Homo sapiens: one gene and its partners. The protein of the gene in region 2 interacts with the protein of the main gene of each other region in a pairwise test. Each region holds a gene or a part of one and is shown on either strand. Other genes may lie near its edges.

Evidence for each region.
Region 1: the proteins of YTHDF3 (region 2) and LARP4 interact in a two-hybrid assay, tested with the Homo sapiens proteins (one large-scale study listed by BioGRID).
Region 3: the proteins of YTHDF3 (region 2) and PRRC2B interact in a two-hybrid assay, tested with the Homo sapiens proteins (one large-scale study listed by BioGRID).

Annotation. Positions count from the first base shown.
Region 1 is NC_000012.12:50,477,058-50,480,518, reverse strand, and holds the end of LARP4 (la-related protein 4), read right to left. Parts: 3' UTR 515-3,461; downstream 1-514. UniProt on the Homo sapiens protein: RNA binding protein that binds to the poly-A tract of mRNA molecules. Associates with the 40S ribosomal subunit and with polysomes. Plays a role in the regulation of mRNA translation.
Region 2 is NC_000008.11:63,167,323-63,171,544, forward strand, and holds the start of YTHDF3 (YTH domain-containing family protein 3), read left to right. Parts: upstream 1-1,298; 5' UTR 1,299-1,555; coding exon 1,556-1,579; intron 1,580-1,682; exon of another isoform or gene 1,683-1,789; intron 1,790-2,064; coding exon 2,065-2,089; intron 2,090-4,222. UniProt on the Homo sapiens protein: Specifically recognizes and binds N6-methyladenosine (m6A)-containing RNAs, and regulates their stability. M6A is a modification present at internal sites of mRNAs and some non-coding RNAs and plays a role in mRNA stability and processing.
Region 3 is NC_000009.12:131,397,031-131,400,681, reverse strand, and holds part of PRRC2B (protein PRRC2B), read right to left. Parts: intron 1-3,651.

The DNA of each region.
Region 1 (3,461 bases), on a different chromosome or scaffold from region 2:
CAGTCACCCAGGACAGAGTGCAATGGCGCGATCCTGGCTCACTGCCATGTCCACCTTCCAGGTTCAAGCGATTCTCCTGCCTCAGCTTCCCAAGTAGCTGGGATTACAGGTGCCCACCACCATGCCTGGCTAATTTTTGTATTTTTAGTAGAGATGGGGTTTCACCATGTTGGCCAGGGTGGGCTTGAACTCCTGGCCCCAGGTGATCCGCCCGCCTTGGCCTCCCAAAGTGTTGGGATTACAGGCGTGAGCTACCGCGCCCAGCCATTTTTCACCCTTTAATAACTGCTTCTGATACTAAAATAACTAAAAGAATACCCCAGGATCATAAAGCTGTATCTTGTCTCTCTGCCCTTGTTTTAAGTGAAACACCATTACTTCCCACTGCCCTCATCATCCAAAAAACAACTTAGACAATAATAATAATAGAATTAGCGAGGGCAACATATAATACTGAAAGGTAGACAGAAGTAGTCATTAGACATACACCACCTAGAGAAAAGGAAACCAGTCCTGCTTTTTAATAATTTTATTTTTTTTCTAATTTTGTTAATTTCCCATAGCACCTTGGCGATGTTGAAAACAAATACAAATACAAGGATGTACTCATTTTAACATTTTATGCATGAGCATGTGTCACACCAATTTTGGGGGTAACAGTTTTGACAACAGGAACAAATCTAAGCAATCGACAAAACAGAAGCCGGATAACTGGCTCTGACCCCCACCCCCAACATTTAAGAGATGCAAAGGACACCTGAATTAGGTTAAAAAAATCAAGTTGATATGGATATTTCAACAGTGTTCTGTGCTGCAAAACTGAAAATAAAACCATTTAATACACAGCCCATTAATATCTGAGTTACGCTTTTAGGAACTGTCAACTCGAAGATTCATAAAAAGTTGTCAGCTTTTAAAAATAAACTTTAAGTTATCTAATAATCAGGTGAATTTCAAAGGAGGATTTACTCACAACTTGAAAATAAATTCTCTTTCAACTTCTTAAAATATCCTCATTCAGCTAATGAAAAGGGAAACATATATGTATCTTTTCGGAAGCTCAGACTAGCATATGCCCAAAAGCCTAAAGTTAAATTAATGGCCACCAAAATTGTAAGGAAATATAAAAAATTAGGAAAAAATCCATCATATATTATAGTTAATAATTTATAAAAGCCCCTCAGAAGGAATACACTGTTCTCTTTTGAGTTTTATCTTTTCTGTAAAAACAAAATTGGTACTTTTAAAATATGGTTAATATATATATTGCCAGCCTAAATACCAGAGACTTAACCCCAGTGTTGTTCAACTGTGTCAAAGTAAAACCAGTGGACATTTAAGCCAAGAGACTAATTATTAAGGCCATAACTAAGAAAACTAGAGAAGTGTTCATTAACTTTTAAATACTATTTTACGTTCCAGCAACATTCTTTTTGTTCTTCTTTACCCTAGTGAAGATGCTAACATTCCATCATTAAGCCTTTCCAAAGCAAACCTGTTTATTTAAAAAAGAAAAAGGAATGTGAAATAATATTCAAGCTATCTTAATTTTAGGAAACAAAAATAAATCAGAATTCTGCACAGCATCTGATCATCTGCAAATTCAGCACATAAGACAACTACAACAAACCTTTATCATTGAAAGCTCTTATATTCCTCAAAACCCAGCTGAAAAAAATTTAGATGGATCACTATTTTAAATGTCAGTGTATTTGGCAAAATTAAAATTACTCAGAGACAGGCCCTAGGTATTATGAAAACCTTAATTATCAGGATAGCAAATGGAGACAGGTTTTGCAATGTCTCTATGTACCTTCTCTATGAAGTGCAAAGTGGTGAACTTGTGTGACTCTTGTTCTCTTCATGCAGTAAGAACTATGGCAGAGTATCACTATACCCAACATTCAATATCATTTATACCTACTTTTAGCCTCCAACAGATCAAGGAAATGTCAAGTCATAAAGGTGAAGAGAAAAATTTGATTTTTTAAATTCCTCCATCTAAAGAACCAAATAAATAAACTACAATGAACATCCACCCTCATTAGTTACAAAGTAACGTTGGAAAAAAGCCAAGAGCTTCACACAACTCATAGGCATTATTTAGATACAAACTTTAAATCTGCTGTAATAAAATAAATGCTAAATACATACTGTGAATATATATAAATATTACACACACATACACACACACACACTCTCTCACTCTTCCCTATACATGCCATCAAATGGGAACTATTAGATGTAATGAGGCAAATTAAATTAAAAACATTGTCTTAATGAGAAAATTTTTAAAGGTTATATCTACAAATTAAATTTCTACTTTAAATAACATTTGAAGTAAAAGCAAAAATATACTTGCTTTCTTCTAAAAGAAGGCTCTTTTCTTGTATTTCAATTACAACCTTTAAATTTTTAGAGCTGGACTAACAGTAAGTCACACAAGCATACAAGTAATACAGACCTACATTTGTGACACATTGTTTAAAAAAAGTAATGTTTCATTTTAAGTGCAGTAATTAAGTTTATAATCCTTACCAAGTGATTTTTACAAAATGTTTATTCTCTGAAATCCAACGCATTCAAAGGATGTTAACACTTAAAACGTTTATCATTTCCACCAACTGCATTATCTTAGTAAACCAAAATAAGCACTTTTATCATAGATGTAGTCAATGATTAATATGTTTTTTTAAAGGACCTAAACTTCCCCCAAATTTCAGCACAGGTAGTTTTATTGTTATGTTTCACCTAGTAGGCAATTTTTAAAAATAGTGTGTAGAAATGAATAGTTTCAAACTGAGTAAATATAGTAGTATACCATGTCATAAAACAATCAAATCAAAAGCAACTGCCAAGCTAATAATAAGTCAAAGAAATAGTAATTCTGGCTTGTACAGATATGTGCAGTGTTTTCAAAGCTCTTAACAGTTAACCACTAACATGTATCTCCAAAGCTTAACTTAGAGTTGGAAGATGAATTTCACAGTAATGTAATTTTAACCACCATTTACATTCACTTTAATATATTACTAAGATGTTTACTCTATGTCACAATGGTGCTTTCCAGTGTTCACAATTTACAGTTTCAATTTGTACATATGTAATTTACTAACATATGGGACAGTTCTTACTATTACAAACTATCCCTTAAAAGAAAAATAAAACCCACCTTACATAGAACTCTGAACATGGTATGACTTAAAACAGATTAACACAACACGGTTTTTAATATTTTAGTCATTTTCTAAATAACAGCATGTAAACTTGTCTATTTAGTATATGAGAGCTACAACTTTATTCACTGAGAAATTATGCACTAATTTTCTTCAACCATCTTTCTCATCTTTACTAAAAAATCTCATGACTTGCTGGTACTGTTTCAGTGAATTCCAAACTGTATTTTGTTGGGTGTGGGGGGAGAAGAGGAGGGAAGGAAGGTAATACACTGTAAACAGAAA
Region 2 (4,222 bases):
TCTCTCTCAAGTTCCTGGCTCATAGCATGTACCAGCAAACTCATTAAAACTAAAACGGTCTGTTTGGGAGTGAAGGATGGGAGACATTGAGAGCAACAGCAGAAAGGGTTGGGGGAGTCTTGGGAAATGCAAGGGTGCTTAGGTTGGGACCCGTGGCAATGAATGGAAGGGCAAGGGAAACTGTCTAACCAGAACTTAAAAATGCCTCTTGGTGATTTACATGAAAAGTGGCCTCTCAAGTTTTTCTATTATTCAGTGCTTCTAAGATACTGTTGCACTGTAAACCACAAAATTAATCTTATGATTCTACAATTTTACTTTCTAAATGATCACTTATTTGATGGTTTTTGAAGTACAGAAAGTATTTGGTCATTTAAATTATTTCCTTCCATGGACTCTGTATCACTGAGACAAGGAATCTTTGCCTTTATTGTAGATATTTCAATGAAAATGTCAACACGTTGCAAATTGGCATACTTTGGGTTTGCCAATATGTGATAAAGAACTTTTTCAATGGAAACTTTCCCTCTTTTCAGGGCCGAAAAGACGCTCTGCAACTATACTTAAGTATCCTAGGCAACTTTATTCATTCAAAAACATCAGAGCGGAGTCAAAAGCACAAATCCATGAATTGGGCGGCGAAGTCTGACTCCAGAGATTACGGCTGAACTGGGTTTGGAAAGACTGAACCCGCGCCGGTGCTCCTCCTGTTTGCTTGGACTTAAGTTTGAGTACCACAACTCTAACCTGCCACTTCAGCTGCACGGGCAGGCTTGTGGGGACCCAGCAACTCCGTCCAGAGAGCGGCTGAGTCAGCCAGCCGTCCCCACGGCTTTGGGCAGCCGCCGAAGGCTCCTGCTAGGCCCGGCTGGCTCACCGGGAAGTTCCCTGCCTCCGTCCCGTCAGCCTCCAGGAGGGCGCCGCCGGCCGCCGTGACTTCAGCAAGGCACTACTATCTCCGTCAGCCGCCGCCTCGGCCATCTTCCTGCCCGGAGTGCAACAAAATCCGGCTCTGGCCAGCCTTCCAGCTGACGCCACTCTGCCAGGGCCCTGCAGCCTCGGAGCGGGATAGAAGGAAGCCGCAGAAAAGACGCTGAAAGTTGGCGCTCGCTGACGCCCCGACGCGCTCCCTCCATGACGCATGCGCCCACCGGCCGTGAGCGCGGGTCCGGTCTCCGGTGACGTGGCGGTGAGGAGGCGGAGCCAAGATCAGCGGCGGGAGGGTGGGGGAGGAAGAGCGAGGTGAGCGCGGACGTCAGAGTGGAGAGCGGAAGGTCAGGGAGGCTCGGAGCGGAAGTGAGACTAGGGAGTCTGTCCGCCATTGTGGACCCGAGAAGCAGAGAGCGAGAGGGGGAAGAGGAGCGTGCAAGCGGAAAAGACGGGCCTCTTCCTCCGACTCCCGAGCGCGAGGCCCTCATTTTGGGTTCTCAGCGAACGGCGGCAGCGGCGGCGGCTGGAACAATCACTCGGCCAAGGGCGACAGCCAACTGCTGTGAGTGCACGGGGAGAGGCCCAGGCAGCGGCGGCGGCGGCGGCTCTCGGGTTGCGGTGAAGAATGTCAGCCACTAGCGTGGATCAGGTGAGGGAGCAGAGGCCCCAGGCTTGGCGAAGGCCCGAGCCCCGGAGCTCCACCCTCGCGCGGGGCTTCGGCTCCTCCCCGTCGCCGCCGCTGCCGGCCCCATAACGGTGCCCCGGGCGCAAGTTGCTGCGGTGTAGCTACCCGGGCCGGGGCGTGCGCCCTGGCCCCGTAGCTTGCGGGCGGGCGGGCGCGGTGCCGCGGCGGGTGGGGGCAAGGACCGGTCTTAGGGGCCTTAGGACAGATCCTGAGGGCGGCAGACATGGGGCGGAGACCGGGCGAGCTCTGGGAGACGGATTCCGAGTGGCGGGTGGGAGGTTTAAAGGCTGGGGGTGGTTGGGAAATTGGTGGCTGTGGAGGATATGGTGGGTTTTTACTCCTACGCGGATAGTCTAAAATAACTTGTCTTTGATAATGCCTTTGATTAACACACTTTTTCTTTTCTTCCTTTTTCTCCTCTTTACCGCATCTTTCGTCTTGCAACACAGAGACCTAAAGGGCAAGGAAATAAAGGTGAGTTTGGATTTTTTTTTTTCTTATTGCTCAATGTTGCCTTAATGTTACTTTTAAACTCTGTGAGGGTATTTTGTTTGTTTTTGCTCCCTCTTGGGAAAAAATGTAGGATTAGGGAAAATATTCATCATGGCTAAGGTAGCCAAGTTCTATCCAGAACTTCGGTAGTTCGTTGCTTTGAAGCCACTTTATAGAAACCAAAGTAGTACGAGAAACAGTTTCCTTGTCAGTTAAGCAGGTATTGGTGTGAACCTGGTGGTATTTCTTTGGTTTTCCAGTTTTTCTGTGTTATGTAACTTATGCCACAAAAAATTTCTACATGTGTATATAGACAAGTATATTCTTAAAGTGGACATTTTGTTTGACATGTCTGGATTACACTGGAAAATGGAAGTCTACATAGTATTCCATCACATTAATGAAAATTGTACTGTTAATCACTGATTCTATTGAAGTCAGTTGTAATGAGGCAACAACATGAGAGAGGTTAGAACTGAGTAGGCATGCCATCTTGCTCTATTGTTCTGATTGCAAGGTGTGACTCTATCTGGTATTTTATAAAGGGCTGAGAAGAAAATAGTTTGTGACATTTTTTCCAGGATTTTATAATTTTCTCTTTAGTAAAAGTACCATTGAAAGTAAAGTGTTTTTTTAAAAAGTGTGTTTTGTATTAATATGGAACAGTGCAGTCAGCTGACTGAAACATTATGACATTAGTCATGTGACATTTAGTTAAGTATAGAACAATAACTGCTTTCTTGGGATAGTGCCAATTAAATAACATCAGAGCAAATTATATATAACATTTTGTAGTGCTTGAAATTACACTAAAATTATGCTTTCTGTTGATTTCAGTAACACAGTGTTAGAAATTAAGATCTATAATAGCCTTTTAGATATAGATTGTCTTTGGTGCCCTTTAAATTCTTGTTAGGGTATTTATTTGCTATTGCAAATTTGGTGAATTTAATAGGTTTTGGATATGTAGATTAGTTTCCTCTGAATTATGGAATTTGTACATACCAGTTACATGGCACCATATTAGGTAACATTTTGTTTGTTTTCATTAAAGATGTTTTCTTGCAGTATGTAAATATTTAGACATTTTAATTTTTAAAATTTCATTTCTAGAATTTTTTTTGTTGTAAGCATAAACCTGAAATAAAAATTGGATATTGATTTATTTTAAATGAGTTTTTAAAAATTTGTGAATTTTAAAAAGAATGATCCATTAATTTCTTCTTTTGCTAGTCTACCCATTAGGAACTATGTAGACTTGGAGATTGTGAAATTGTGGTCATTATTGCCTAGCATAAATTATTTTATCCTAGATCTGTGGGGAGGTGGCACTTTGCAAAGCTATTTGAAATGCTAAGTGTTTTATGTTACCCGCTTTAAGGTAAGTACACAAGTTCTATGAGGTACTTGTTTGTTAAAACAAAATAGAGCCTCTACAGCACTGTAAGTCAGTAAAATAAGTTTGATTTATGAGTGGTCATTTCACTTAGGTAGGCACTGGTGGCATCTTTGATATTAGATATGAGTTGAGTTATCTATAAACTGCATAATACATCCACTGTTTGCAAATAAGTATTTTTTGGTTATTTCAAAAATTTTTATCCATCAGTATCGCTTCTGTTAGTTGTATTCAGACACATACACAAAGTGTTTATTTTGATAGTTCTTTATTCTCAAGAAATTTTCTTTCTTTCCCCCTTGTTGTTCAGTTTAATAATTTCATCTAAGGTTAGAATAATGGATTGGGATTCCTTGGAGTCCTGAGTTCTAATACTGCCTTTGGCTACTGACTTGCCAAGTGAGCTTGAAAACATTTTACCTGTCTGTCAGAATCTCCCCTCTATAAAATAAAAATAACTCTAGTCATAATTCCCATAATTCCTATAGTATGTTGTTAGGATTCTTGTAATTACAGTAGTTCACTGCTCTAGTAGCAATTATATTTGCTGGATTTCTTTTCACTTTCCTCACTTAATCTATTTTTAAGGTGCAGGAAGACTCCTTTGCATGGAGCCTTGGCAGGAGGGGAAAAATGCTACTGGCCTGAAAGTATTGCTAATTATTTAAGTTTCTTAAAAATGGCAGATGCTACAAGTGCACAAATAACAAATATAC
Region 3 (3,651 bases), on a different chromosome or scaffold from region 2:
CCAGCACTTTGATAGGCGGAGGCGGAGGGATCACTTGAGTCCAGGAGTCTGAAACAGCCTGGGTGTCCAGGCACGGTGGCTCACACCTGTCATCCCAGCACTTTGGGAGGCCAAGGCAGGTGGATCACCTGAGGTCAGGATTTCGAGACCAGCCTGGCCAACATGGCAAAACCCCGTCTCTACTAAAAATACAAAAAGTAGCCAGGTGTGGTGGTGCACGCCTGTAATCCCAGCTACTCGAAGGCTGAGGCACGAGAATTGCTTGAACCCAGGAAGTGGAGGTTGCAGTGAGCCAAGATCGCACGGCTGCACTCCAGCCTGCGCAACAGAACAAGATGCCATCTCAAAAAAAAAAAGAAAGAAAAGAAAAGAAAAACAAACAGCCTGGGCAAAATGGCGAAACCCCGTCTCCACAAAAAAATACAAAACTTAGTCAGGCATGGTGGCGCATGCCTATAGGATCCCAGCTACTTGGGAGGCTAAGGCAGAAGGATCATTTGAGCCCAGGATGCAGAGGTTACGGTGAGCTGAGATCACATCACTGCACTCCAGACTGGGCGACAAAGTGAGACCCTGCCTCAAAAAAGAAAAAACTAAGAAAGAGACTGCCTTGGGCTCAAGGCTGGAGAGGGAGGTGACAAAGACTGAAGGAGACAACCGATCCTGTCCAGAAGAGAAGAACAAACCTGCAATCCTCTGACCCCAGAAATTCCACTTATGGGAGATAATCAGCCACGTGGACCAAGACTTAACATGCCGAGATGCTCCCTACAGTTTCTCTTATAGGAGGGAAAAGAGGGCAACAATAATCTAAATGTCTACGAATACAGGAGTCAATAAATTATGGCATATCCGTATAATAGCAATTATATAATTATAAAAATAACGTAGAGGAATACACTATAACATTAAAAGGGGAAAAGCAAGCTATCAACTGTGTATTCAATGTATATATACTATTGCTCTAATTTAGAAAACACAGACATTATCAGAGGAAAGAAACACACCAGCAACTTTACTGCAGTTAGCTCTGGATGGTGAGGTCACAAGTGATTTATATATTTATTTTGGCATTTATTCTTTTCAGTATTTTCCTTTTTTTTCAGATGGAGTCTCGCTCTGTGGCCCAGGCTAGAGTGCAGTGTCGTGATCTCGGCTCACTGCAAACTCCGCCTCCCGGGTTCATGCCATTCTCCTGCCTCAGCCTCCTGAGTATCTGGGACTACAGGCGCCCGCCACCACGCCCGGCTAATTTTTTGTATTTTTAGTAGACACGGGGTTTCATCGTGTTAGCCAGGATGGTCTCGATCTCCTGACCTCGTGATCCGCCCACCTCAGCCTCCCAAAATGCTGGGATTATAGGTGTGAGCCACCGTGCCCAGACTTTTTTTTTTTTTTTTTTTTTGAGACAGAATTTCACTCTGTCTCCCAGGCTGGAATGCAGTGGCACAATCTCGGCTCACTGCAACCTCCACCTCCCAGGTTTAAGTGATTCTCCAGCCTCACCCCTCCTGAGTAGCTGGGACTACAGGCACTCGCCACGGCATCCAGCTAATTTTTGTATTTTTAGCAGAGACGGGGTTTCACCATGTTGGCCAGGCTGGTCTTGAATTCCTGACCTCAGGTGATCCGCCCACCTCGGCCTGCCAAAGTGCTTGGATTACAGGCGTGAGCCACCGTGCCCGACCTACTTTTTATTCTTTTGAGACAGGGTCTCACTCTGTCGCCCAGGCTAGAGTGCAGTGGCATGATCACGGCTCACTGCAACCTCAACCTCCCAAGCTCAAGTGATCCTCCTGCTTCAGCCTCCCAAGTAGTTAGAACTACAGGCATGCGCCACTATACCCTACTAATTTTTTCTTTTAAGAGGCATTTTTTTATTTTCATCACATTGCCCAGGCTGGTCTTAACCTGGCCTCAAGCAATCCACCTGCCTTGGCCTCCCCAAGTACTGGGATTACAGGCATGAGCCACCTTGCCCTACCACAAGAAAAATGTATTTAAAGGGCCTTGTACAATGCCTGGCAAATGATAGGTGCTCAAGGAGTATCTATTGCCTGACAAGTCAATTAAAAATGCAATAAATACTGCTGCTGCAGCCCCACAGAGAAAAAGACTGATGGTTATCTTGGAAAGGAGGAAGACGGTCCAGACGGAAGCCACACAACTGGCTGCAGAGGTAAGAACGGAAGGAAGTCCTGTACAAGATGTGAAAGACCGCCAGCAACTTGAGATAGGCTTTGTTCTGCCAGCTACTCCTGCTGCACGCAATGCTTCACAAATCAGTGCTGCTGCCAGCACCTCGGAGGTGCACTTCAGCTCGGACGAAGGATGCTTCTCAGGTCACACAGAAAACCAACAAGTACAGCTGAGAACAAAGCTCAACCACAACTTCTGGCTCAAGACACTAAGACAAACCTACCTCCCAGCACAAAAGAGATTTCCCACGTGCCACCCAGAGGTATAAACAGTAATATCGCCAATGGCAAGGCCCAGGTCTGCCAGCTCCCAGGTGAGGAGGTCCAGTCTGAATGGCACCTTTTAAACCTAAAGCTAATGACAAACAATTCTATTTCACCAGAAACAAAGCTCACCATATCCCATGTCGCTCCCATCTCCAACACCACAGCCAGTGCCTGTATTTCTTTGTCCCAATGACAGACCCAAGTTTCCTGAGGCTGTACAAGTCCCAGAAATAATCTTAAAAAGAGATCAAGTTATGATCTGAAAAGAAGACAGTCTAGTTAGCCCTGCCTCCTTACATGAAATTTATTTAAAACCAAAATTACAAGATTTGGAGCACAAAGCCCATTGTCTGCTGGAAATGTTGTTTTTTGGGGAGAAATCCATTGTTTTAAAATCTAGTATAGATAGGCTCTATTTAGTACCTGTCCGCCCATGACAAGATATGTACATTTCACGGTAGGGAAGCCTCATTATTGAATTCAGAAATACATGAATTGACCCACCTGGCCTATTCTGGTTTGAAATAGAAACCAACACAGAAATGATCAATCTTAAGGGGTAGGATAATGAGACATATAACTAGCATACAGCCACAGCCATTAGCAACATGAGTCAGTACTTTGTGCAAGGCAAAAAAAAAAAAAAAAAAAAACCCTCAAAAGTACAATAAAATAATCCTTCAGGATAAAAAAAGAGAACTGAAATTCAAAAGAGGTTAGGAGTGTTGAACAGGAAAAAAAAAATTAATAACAAAAATCCCTCAGCTAAGCACAAGGCAAAGGGACCCATGCTGGAACCAGTTCTGACCTGCCATTCCTGAAATTCCACTCTCCCGAGGTTTCCTGGCTCTTCCTTCCCCAGGCTTTCTTTTTACCTATTTGGGCCCAGTGGAGGCTGGAGACGGCCACTGTACGAGATGGGACGCCCACACAGTGGGCTTAGGGCCTAAGGCAAGGGCATGCAATCAGCATTAGGGGGCCACAGATAACCAAAATTCACAGGTATGCAGAAGCTCATGGGAGAGGCAGCGACTATCTCCTGGCCTAACTAACCAGTTAACAGTATAGAGCCAGACTGGGCCCGAGTGAAGTCAGACAAAAAGGAAGGGCCAAGAGGCAGGAAGCGAGGAAAAATCAAAGGATGACAGGACCCTGCTAAAATATCTCAGTTCCACAGCTAGGAGGT